Regions from separate parts of the Homo sapiens genome. Here region 1 is linked to region 2. Evidence: fine-mapped expression QTL. A gene starts in region 2. The other region holds a variant in brackets. All regions are shown on one strand. Distances are between the middles of the regions. Region 1 overlaps LOC105376025 (a long non-coding RNA gene). Region 2 holds the start of FANCG (FA complementation group G).

Evidence for each region. PIP is the estimated chance that this variant, and not a neighbour inherited with it, causes the effect.
Region 1: its variant is the best candidate, but not a certain one, in a credible set for the expression of FANCG in blood mononuclear cells (TOPMed, PIP 0.52).

The regions. Positions count from the first base shown.
Region 1 is chr9:35,019,451-35,023,838 of GRCh38, reverse strand. LOC105376025 (a long non-coding RNA gene) reads left to right here. Exons shown (of 4, transcript XR_929579.3): 2 at 1,211-1,307. Among named protein-coding and RNA genes, the nearest start is that of SPATA31G1, 21 kb to the left of the region's middle. The variant C/T (reference allele first, on the strand shown) is at 2,538.
Region 2 is chr9:35,078,400-35,082,784 of GRCh38, reverse strand. FANCG (FA complementation group G) reads left to right here and starts at 2,843. Exons shown (of 14, transcript NM_004629.2): 1 at 2,843-3,344; 2 at 3,544-3,634; 3 at 4,049-4,180. The coding sequence starts at 3,261. RefSeq lists enhancers at 1,391-1,997, 3,214-3,821 and a silencer at 2,973-3,138.

The DNA.
Region 1 (4,388 bases), 59 kb after region 2:
TCCCAATGTGACTCATCCCAAATCTTTCTTCTTTCTCTCCTGTCTGTTCCTTCAGTCTCCACCCCAAGCTCTGAGTCCTTTGAATCCTTCTTTTCTACAGACCCATCTGACCTCTCCCCTCCTCCCCAGGCTGCTTCTCGCTAGGCCGAGCCAGGTCCCAACTCTTCCTCAGCCACTGCTCCCCCACCCTATAATCCTTTTATCACTTCCTCTCCTCACACCCGGTCTGCTTTACAGTTTCGTTCTGCGACTAGCTCTCCCCCACCTGCCCAACAATTTCCTCTTAGAGAAGTGGCTGGAGCTGAAGGCATAGTCTGGGTACATGTGCCTTTTTCTGTATCAGACTTTTCCCAAATCAGCCAGTGTTTGGGCTCTTTCTCATCAGACCCCACTAAATATATACAGGAATTCCGATATCTAACTCTGTCCTGCAAGTTAACCTGCAGTGACTTAAATGTCATCCTGACTTCCACCCTCTCCCCAGATGAACAGGAAAGAGTTTTTTCTCTAGCCCAGTCTCACGCTGACAACCGCTGGCTTCATGAGCCAGGCCTCCAGGAAGGCATCAGAGCAGTTCCCCGAGAGGACCCCCAAAGGAACTATCAGGCAGATTCCCCAGGTATAGCTAGGCGAGATTACATGATTTCCTGCCTAGTTGAAGGGCTTAAAAAGGCAGCACACAAAGCTTTTAATTATGACAAAATTAAAAACTACCCGAGGTAAAGACGAAAACCCAGCCCAGGTCATGGCCCGCTTAGCAGCAACCCTTAGACGCTTTACCGCCCTAGACCCAGAGGGGCCGGAAGGCCGCCTTATTCTCAATATGCATTTTATTACCCAGTCCGCTCCCGACATTAGAAAAAGCTCCAAAAATGAGCTTCCAGTCCTCAAACCCCACAACAGGACCTAATTAACCGCGCCTTCAAGGTGTACAATAATAAAGAGTTGCAATTACTTGCCTCTGCTGTGTGAGAAACCCCAGCCATATCTCCAGCACACAAAAACTTCAAAACGCCTAAGCCACAGCAGTCAGGCATTCCTTCAGGACTTCCTCCCCCAGGATCTTGCTTCAAGTGCTGGAAATCTGGCCACTAGGCCAAGGGATGCCCACAGAACTGGGACTCCTCCTAAGCCGTGTCCCATCTGTGTGGGACCCCACTGGAAACTGGACTGTCTAACTGGCCCAAGGCTCTGACTGACTCCTTCCCAGATCTTCTCGGCTCAGTGGCTGAAGACTGACGTTGCCTGATCACCTCGGAAGCCTCCTGGACCATCACAGACGCTTTGGGTAACTCTTACAGTGGAGGGTAAGTCCGTCCCCTTCTTAATCAATACGAAGGCTACCCACTTCACATTACCTTCTTTTCAAGGGCCTGTTTCCCTTGCCTCCATAACCGTTGTGGGTATTGATGGCCAGGCTGCTAAACCTCTTAAAACTCCCCAACTCTGGTGCCAACTTGGACAACATTCTTTAATGCACTCCTTTTTAGTTATCCCCACCTGCCCAGCTCCCTTATTAGGTCGAGACATTTTAACTAAATTATCTACTCCCCTGACTATTCCTGGGCTACAGCCACACCTCATTGCTGCCTTTCCCCCCAGTTCAAAGCCTCCTTCACATCCTCTCTTTGTATCTCCCCACCTTAATCCACAAGTATAGGACACCTCTACTCCCTCCTTGGCGATGGATGACGTACCCCTTACCATCCCATTAAAACCTGATCACCCTTACCCTGCTCAACACCAGTATCCCATCCCACAGCAGGCTTTCAAAGCATTAAAGCCTGTTATCACTCGCCTGTTACAGCATGGCCTTTTAAAGCCTATAAACACTCCTTACAATTTCCCCATTTTACCTGTCCAAAAACTGGACAAGTCTTACAGGTTAGTTCAGGATCTGCGCCTTATCAACCAAATTGTCTTGCCTATCTACCCCGTGGTGCCAAACCCATAGACTCTCCTATCCTCAGTACCTCCCTCCACAACCCATTCTGTTCTAGATAAACCTAGCTGACCCCATAAATCCTAAATTCTTTCCCCACTCCCCTTTCCATTTCTTAAAAAACAGCCCTAAAAGCTGCTCCCACACTAGCTCTCCCTAACTCATCCCAGCCTTTTTCATTACACATAGCTGAAGTGCAGGGCTGTGCAGTCAAAATTCTTACACAAGGACTGGGACCGTGCCCTGTGGCCTTTTTATCCAAACAACTTGACCTTACTGTTTTAGCCTAGCCCTCATGTCTGTGTGCGGCAGCTGCCACTGCCTTAATACTTTTAGAGGCCCTCAAAATCACAAACTATGCTCAACTCACTCTCTACAGTTCTCATAACTTCCAAAATCTATTTTCTTCCTCATACCTGATGCATATACTTTCTGCCCCTCTCCACTACCTCTCAGCAAGTCAAACTCATTGCCTTAACTCAAGCCCTCACCCTTGCAAAGGGACTACGTGTCAATATTTATACTGACTCTAAATATGCCTTCCATATCCTGCACCACCATACTGTTATATGGGCTGAAAGAGGTTTCCTCACTA[C/T]GCAAGGGTCCTCCATCATTAATGCCTCTTTAATAAAAACTCTTCTCAAGGCCACTTTACTTCCAAAGGAAGCTGGATTCATTCACTGCAAGGGCCATCAAAAGGCGTCAGATCCCATCGCTCAGGGCAACACTTATGCTGATAAGGTAGCTAAAAAAGCAGCTAGCATTCCAACTTCTGTCCCTCATGGCCAGTTTTTCTCCTTCTCATCGGTCACTCCCACCTACTCCCCCACTGAAACTTCCACCTATCAATCTCTTCCCACACAAGGCAAATGGTTCTTAGACCAAGGAAAATATCTCCTTCCAGCCTCACAGGCCCATTCTATTCTGTCATCATTTCATAGCCTCTTCCATGTAGGTTACAAGCCGCTAGCCCACCTCTTAGAACCTCTCATTTCCTTTCCATCATGAAAATCTATCCTCAAGGAAATCACTTCTCAGTGTTCCGTCTGCTATTCTACTCCTCCTCAGGGATTGTTCAGGCCCCCTCCCAGTCCTCCCATTTCATTACCACTTGGCTAGCCCTGTGATTATTAAATTCTTTCTTTGCTGCCAAAAAAAAAAAAAAAGAAAAGAAAGGAATTTGGAAGTCTAAAATAGGGAAAAAGAGGTTTTATGAATCTATAAGATCTACTTCTACCTGCGTGTCTAATACATCTACATATTTATGTGTCATGTATATGATGTTTCATTACTAAAAATATATAAAAGAGCTTTAATTAATTGGCTTAAAGAAAAAAGCACTTAATCAAATACTTTATTAGAAAATTGAGACTTTAAACCAAGTGCTTTTTCAACTTCAAGTGACTTAAGTAAATCATTTTTTTTTTTTTTTTGAGACGGAGTCTCACTCTGTCCCCCAGGCTGGAGTGCAGTGGCACCATCTCGGCTCACTGCAAGCTCCGCCTCCCGGGTTTACTTATGCCATTCTTCTGCCTCAGCCTCCCGAGTAGCTGGGACTACAGATGCCTGCCACCACACCAGGCTAATTTTTTGTATTTTTAGTAGAGATGGGGTTTCACTGTGTTAGCCATGATGGTCTCGATCTCCTGACCTCATGATCCGCCTGCCTCGGCCTCCCAAAGTGCTGGGATTACAGGCGTGAGCCACCACACCCAGCCTCAACTTAAGTAAATCTTTAATAAATAAGCTGGTTTTAAAAATACTGGTGAAGTAGAATTAGAAATGGCTTCAGAATTGATCTCTGCTAGATGTCAACATTTGGCATGAAGGTTGTAAAGCTATGAATGTAGCCCAAAAGAGAATTGTTTATGTAAAATTTGATATATAAGGCATTTAATATTGTTTAGTTAATGAAAACAGCTAAATCCTGAATTTTTGGTAAACAAAACACCATTTATCTAATCTTAAGTTTCTTACCTAGGAAAATCTGAAATTTACAGATTATAAAAATGGTTAACCGTATGAAAAAAAGGTCAACATCACTGATCATTAGAGAAATGCAAATCAAAACCACAATGAGGCCAGGAGCAGTGTCTCGTGCCTGTAATCCCAGTACCTTGGGGGCCAATGTGGATGGATCACTGGAGGTCAGAAATTCGGGACCAGCCTGGCCAACATGGTGAAACCTTGTCTCTACCAAAAATACAAAAATTAGCTGGGCATGGTAGCACATGCCTGAAATCCCAGCTACTCAGGAGGCTGAGGCAGGAGAATTGCTTGAACCCAGTAGGTGTAGGTTTCTGTGAGTCAAGATCGTGTCACTGCACTCCAGCCTGGGCAACAAAGCGAGACTCTGCCTCAAAACAAACAAAACCCCCAGAAAACCCACAGTGATATACCATCTCATGCCAGTCAGAATGGCGATTACTAAAAAGTCCAGAAACAA
Region 2 (4,385 bases):
GGGATTACAGGAATAAGCCACTGCGCCCGGCCTATGATTAACTTTTTAAGAAACTGCCAAACTTTTCTGAAGTGAGTGTACTATTTTATATTCCCACCAGCAGTGTATGAGGGTTCCTCATACACATCCTCACCAACACTTGGTATAATCTGTTTTTATTGTAGTCATTTTATGTATGTATGTGTATAGTGTTTTTATTTTTATTTATTTATTTTTGAGACAGAGTCTCACTCTGTCACCCAGGCTGGAGTGCAGTGGCATGGTCTCAGCTCACTGCAACCTCCGTTTCCCAGGTTCAAGTGATTGTCATGCCTCAGCCTCCTGAGTAGCTGGGATTACAGGTGTCTGCCACCATGCCCAGCTAATTTTTGTATTTGCAGTAGAGACAGGGTTTTGCCCTGTTGGCTTGGCTGGTCTCAAACTCCTGGCCTCAAGTGATCCACCTGCCTCAGCCTCCCAAAGTGCTGGGATTAAAGGTGTGAGCCACCACGCCCGGCTGTGTGAAGCGTTTTTTTATTTTTTGAGACGAAGTCTCGCTGTGTCACCTAGGCTAGAGTTCAGTGGCAGGATCTCGGCTCACTGCAACCTCCACCTTCCGGGTTCAAGCCATTCTCCCACCTCAGCTTCCCAGGTAGCTGGGATTACAGGCATGCACCACCATGCCTGCCTAATTTTTGTATTTTTAGTAGAGACGAGGTTTCACCAAGTTGGCCATGCTGGTCTTGAACTCCTGACCTCAAGTGATCCATCCACCTCAGCCTCCCAAAGTGCTGGGATTACAGGCATAACATGGCCCGGCCCTGGCCATGTTTTTAACTGTGTTTCTCTAATAGCTAATAATGCCGAGCATCTTTTTATGTGTTTCTTAGCCATTAGTAGATCTTTTTTGGTAAAATGTCTTTTTTTTTTTTTTTGGTCCATCTTAAAATTGTTTTTTGTTTTGTTTTGAGACAGGGTCTCACTTTGTTGCCCACGCTGGAGTGCAGTGGCTCAATCATGGCTCACTGCAGCTTCGACATCCCTGAGCTCAGGTGATCCTCCCACCTAAGTTTCCCGAGTAGATGGGACTACAGGTGTGTGCCACCATGCCCAGCTAATTTTTGTATTTTTTTTGTAGAGGTGGGGTTTTGCTATGTTGCCCAGGCAGGTCTTAAACTTCTGAGGCTCAAATGATCCTCCCACCTCAGCCTCCCAAAGTGCTGGGATAACAGGCATGAACCACCACACCCAGCTAAGATTGTTTTTAAAAATCTTTTTCTTGAGTTTTGGGAGTTTTTATGTGTTAGGGATACCAGTCCCTTATGAGGTATATAATTAGCAAGTAGTTTCTCCCACTCTGTGACTGTGACCTTTCTTTTTTTGAGGCAGGGTCTCACTCTGTTACTCAGGCTGGAGGGCAGTGGTGTGATCATGGCTCACTGCAACCTGGAACTCCTAGGCTCAAGGGCTCCTCCCACCTCAGCCTCCCAAGTAGCTGGGTCTACAGGTGTGTTATTGTGCCAGGGTTAATGTTTTAAATTTTTTGTAGAGATAATGTCTCTACAAAAGACACCATCTTTGTTGCCTAGGCTGGTCTTGAACTCCTGGCTTCAGGGAATCCTCCAGCCTCAGCCTCCCAAAGTGCTGGGATTACAGCATGAGCCACATCCAGCCTATGATTTTTCTTCTTTTCTTTTCTTTTCTTTTCTTTTTTTTTTGAGATGGAGTCTCGCTGTTGCGCAGGCTGGAGTGCAGTGGGGCGATCTCGGCTCACTGCAGGCTCTGGCCCGCGGGGTTCACGCCTTTCTCCTGCCTCAGCCTCCCGAGTAGCTGGGACTACAGGCGCCCGCCACATCGCCCGGCTAATTTTTTGTATTTTTAGTAGAGACGGGGTTTCACCGTGTTAGCCATGATGGTCTCGATCTCCTGACCTCGTGATCCGCCCGCCTCGGTCTCCCAAAGTGCTGGGATCACAGGCGTGAGCCACGGCGCCCGGCCCCAGCGTATGACTTCTTAATGATGTCTTTGTAGTACAAGAGTTTTTAATTTTAATAAAGTTAACTTTTTTTTAAATTGTACAAGCTTTTAGTGCTGTGTCTAACAACTTGTTGCCAAACCCAAGGTCATAAAGCTGTTCTCTTACGTTTTCTTTTTTTTTTTTTTTTGAGACGGAGTCTCACTCTGTCACCCAGGCTGGAGTGCAATGGCACGATGTCGGCTCACTGCAACCTCCGCCACCCGGGTTCAAGCGATTCTTCCGCCTCAGCCTCCGGGGTAGCTGGGATTACAGGCGCACGACACCACGCCCTGCTAATTTTTGTATTTTTGTAGAGAAGGTTTCACCATGTTAGTTAGGCTGCTTTACGTTTTCTTTTAGAAGTTTTATATTTTTGGCTCTTATATTTAGTTTGTGATCCATTGAGTTGATTTTATGTACGTATGTATGGTCGCGTTCTTTTCTTTCCTGTCTTTTTTTTTTTTTTTTTTTGCATATGGATATTCAATTCTCCTAGCTCCATTTAATTTGAAATGATTGGGCAGGTACTTTTGAGCAGTGCAAGTACAGAGCGGCACTGCCAGCAGACTACACGCGGTAGAAAGCCGACCTTGGTGAGCGTGTTGGTGCTCGACAGTGAGCAGAGAAAGGATGGACGATTACGGAGCGCCCTCGTCTCCAGTTACCGCTTTCTGGAAACACCATCCGCCGGGGCGGAGCTGTTCCGCCCCGGTGCGGTACTACGACTCCCAGCATGCACCTCGCAGTCGGCCCTCGGTGGAAGCGGGAACCCAGGAGGACCTGGGGGTGTGGCAGCGAGGAAGGGCCGAGCCACGGACTGTGGGGCCGAAACTCGCTCCCGCCCACCCTTTCTCGAGGCTGTGGCCTCCGCGAGAGCCGAGCGGGCCGCACCGCCGGCCGTGCGACTGCCCCAGTCAGACACGACCCCGGCTTCTAGCCCGCCTAAGCCTGTTTGGGGTTGCTGACTCGTTTCCTCCCCGAGTTTCCCGCGGGAACTAACTCTTCAAGAGGACCAACCGCAGCCCAGAGCTTCGCAGACCCGGCCAACCAGAGGCGAGGTTGAGAGCCCGGCGGGCCGCGGGGAGAGAGCGTCCCATCTGTCCTGGAAAGCCTGGGCGGGTGGATTGGGACCCCGAGAGAAGCAGGGGAGCTCGGCGGGGTGCAGAAGTGCCCAGGCCCCTCCCCGCTGGGGTTGGGAGCTTGGGCAGGCCAGCTTCACCCTTCCTAAGTCCGCTTCTGGTCTCCGGGCCCAGCCTCGGCCACCATGTCCCGCCAGACCACCTCTGTGGGCTCCAGCTGCCTGGACCTGTGGAGGGAAAAGAATGACCGGCTCGTTCGACAGGCCAAGGTAACACGGTTGCTGGCACCCTCGGTTTGCAGCCTCAAGATCCCTGAAAGCGGGTTTGCAGTGGATTTACCCCAACCGATGGGGAGGGACTGAGCTTGACCAAAGAGCCAGAAATGACTGGAGAATGCATCCCTTGCCACTGCTGCAAGGGGAGAAAAAAGGATTGATCCTCAGTGACAACCCCTCCCTCATGTGGCAGGTGGCTCAGAACTCCGGTCTGACTCTGAGGCGACAGCAGTTGGCTCAGGATGCACTGGAAGGGCTCAGAGGGCTCCTCCATAGTCTGCAAGGTAGGCGGGTCCTCCCCAGGATGGTCAGTTCCCCTCTTCCATAGCCAGAGAAACATCCGCTCCTGCGTTTTTGGGATCGATATAATTACTCGGGGCAGGGAGTCCTGTTTAAGGCACAGAGGAGACTGGAGTGGAATCATCTTTGTACAGGCAAATCCCTCTCTTCCTTACACACTCACAGAGTGGCATTTGAAAAATGGTTTCCAAGATGGTCTGATCTGGATAACTTTTTTGCCCTTTCCAGACTCTCTGTCCAAAGGTTGGGTTCTTTTTTTAAATCCTTAGCTAATTGGCTGGAGGGTGGGTTCTTTATTGTAGCTGTTTTGGTTGGAGTGGGGTGATCTCTGAGTTGGGATTTTATTTGGAGGATCTTCCATGGGGGAGCAGTCTGTAAGACCAACATTGTTGCTCCAGGGCTCCCTGCAGCTGTTCCTGTTCTTCCCTTGGAGCTGACTGTCACCTGCAACTTCATTATCCTGAGGGCAAGCTTGGCCCAGGGTTTCACAGAGGATCAGGCCCAGGATATCCAGCGGAGCCTAGAGAGAGGTGAGGGCCAGAGATTGTCCCTGATTCCCCTGCCATCTTCAGTCTGGGTTTAAGTTATTGCAGGGAGATGGGAGGATAAACAACATCTGTCACCTCCATGGAGAGAGGTGCCCTTCTCTGTGCTCTTCAGACCAGGTTGAGGTATTATTATTGTGACCTTTGGGGTCCTGCAGGAGAGGAAAGCCAGAGTGTGTGGGGAGATGGA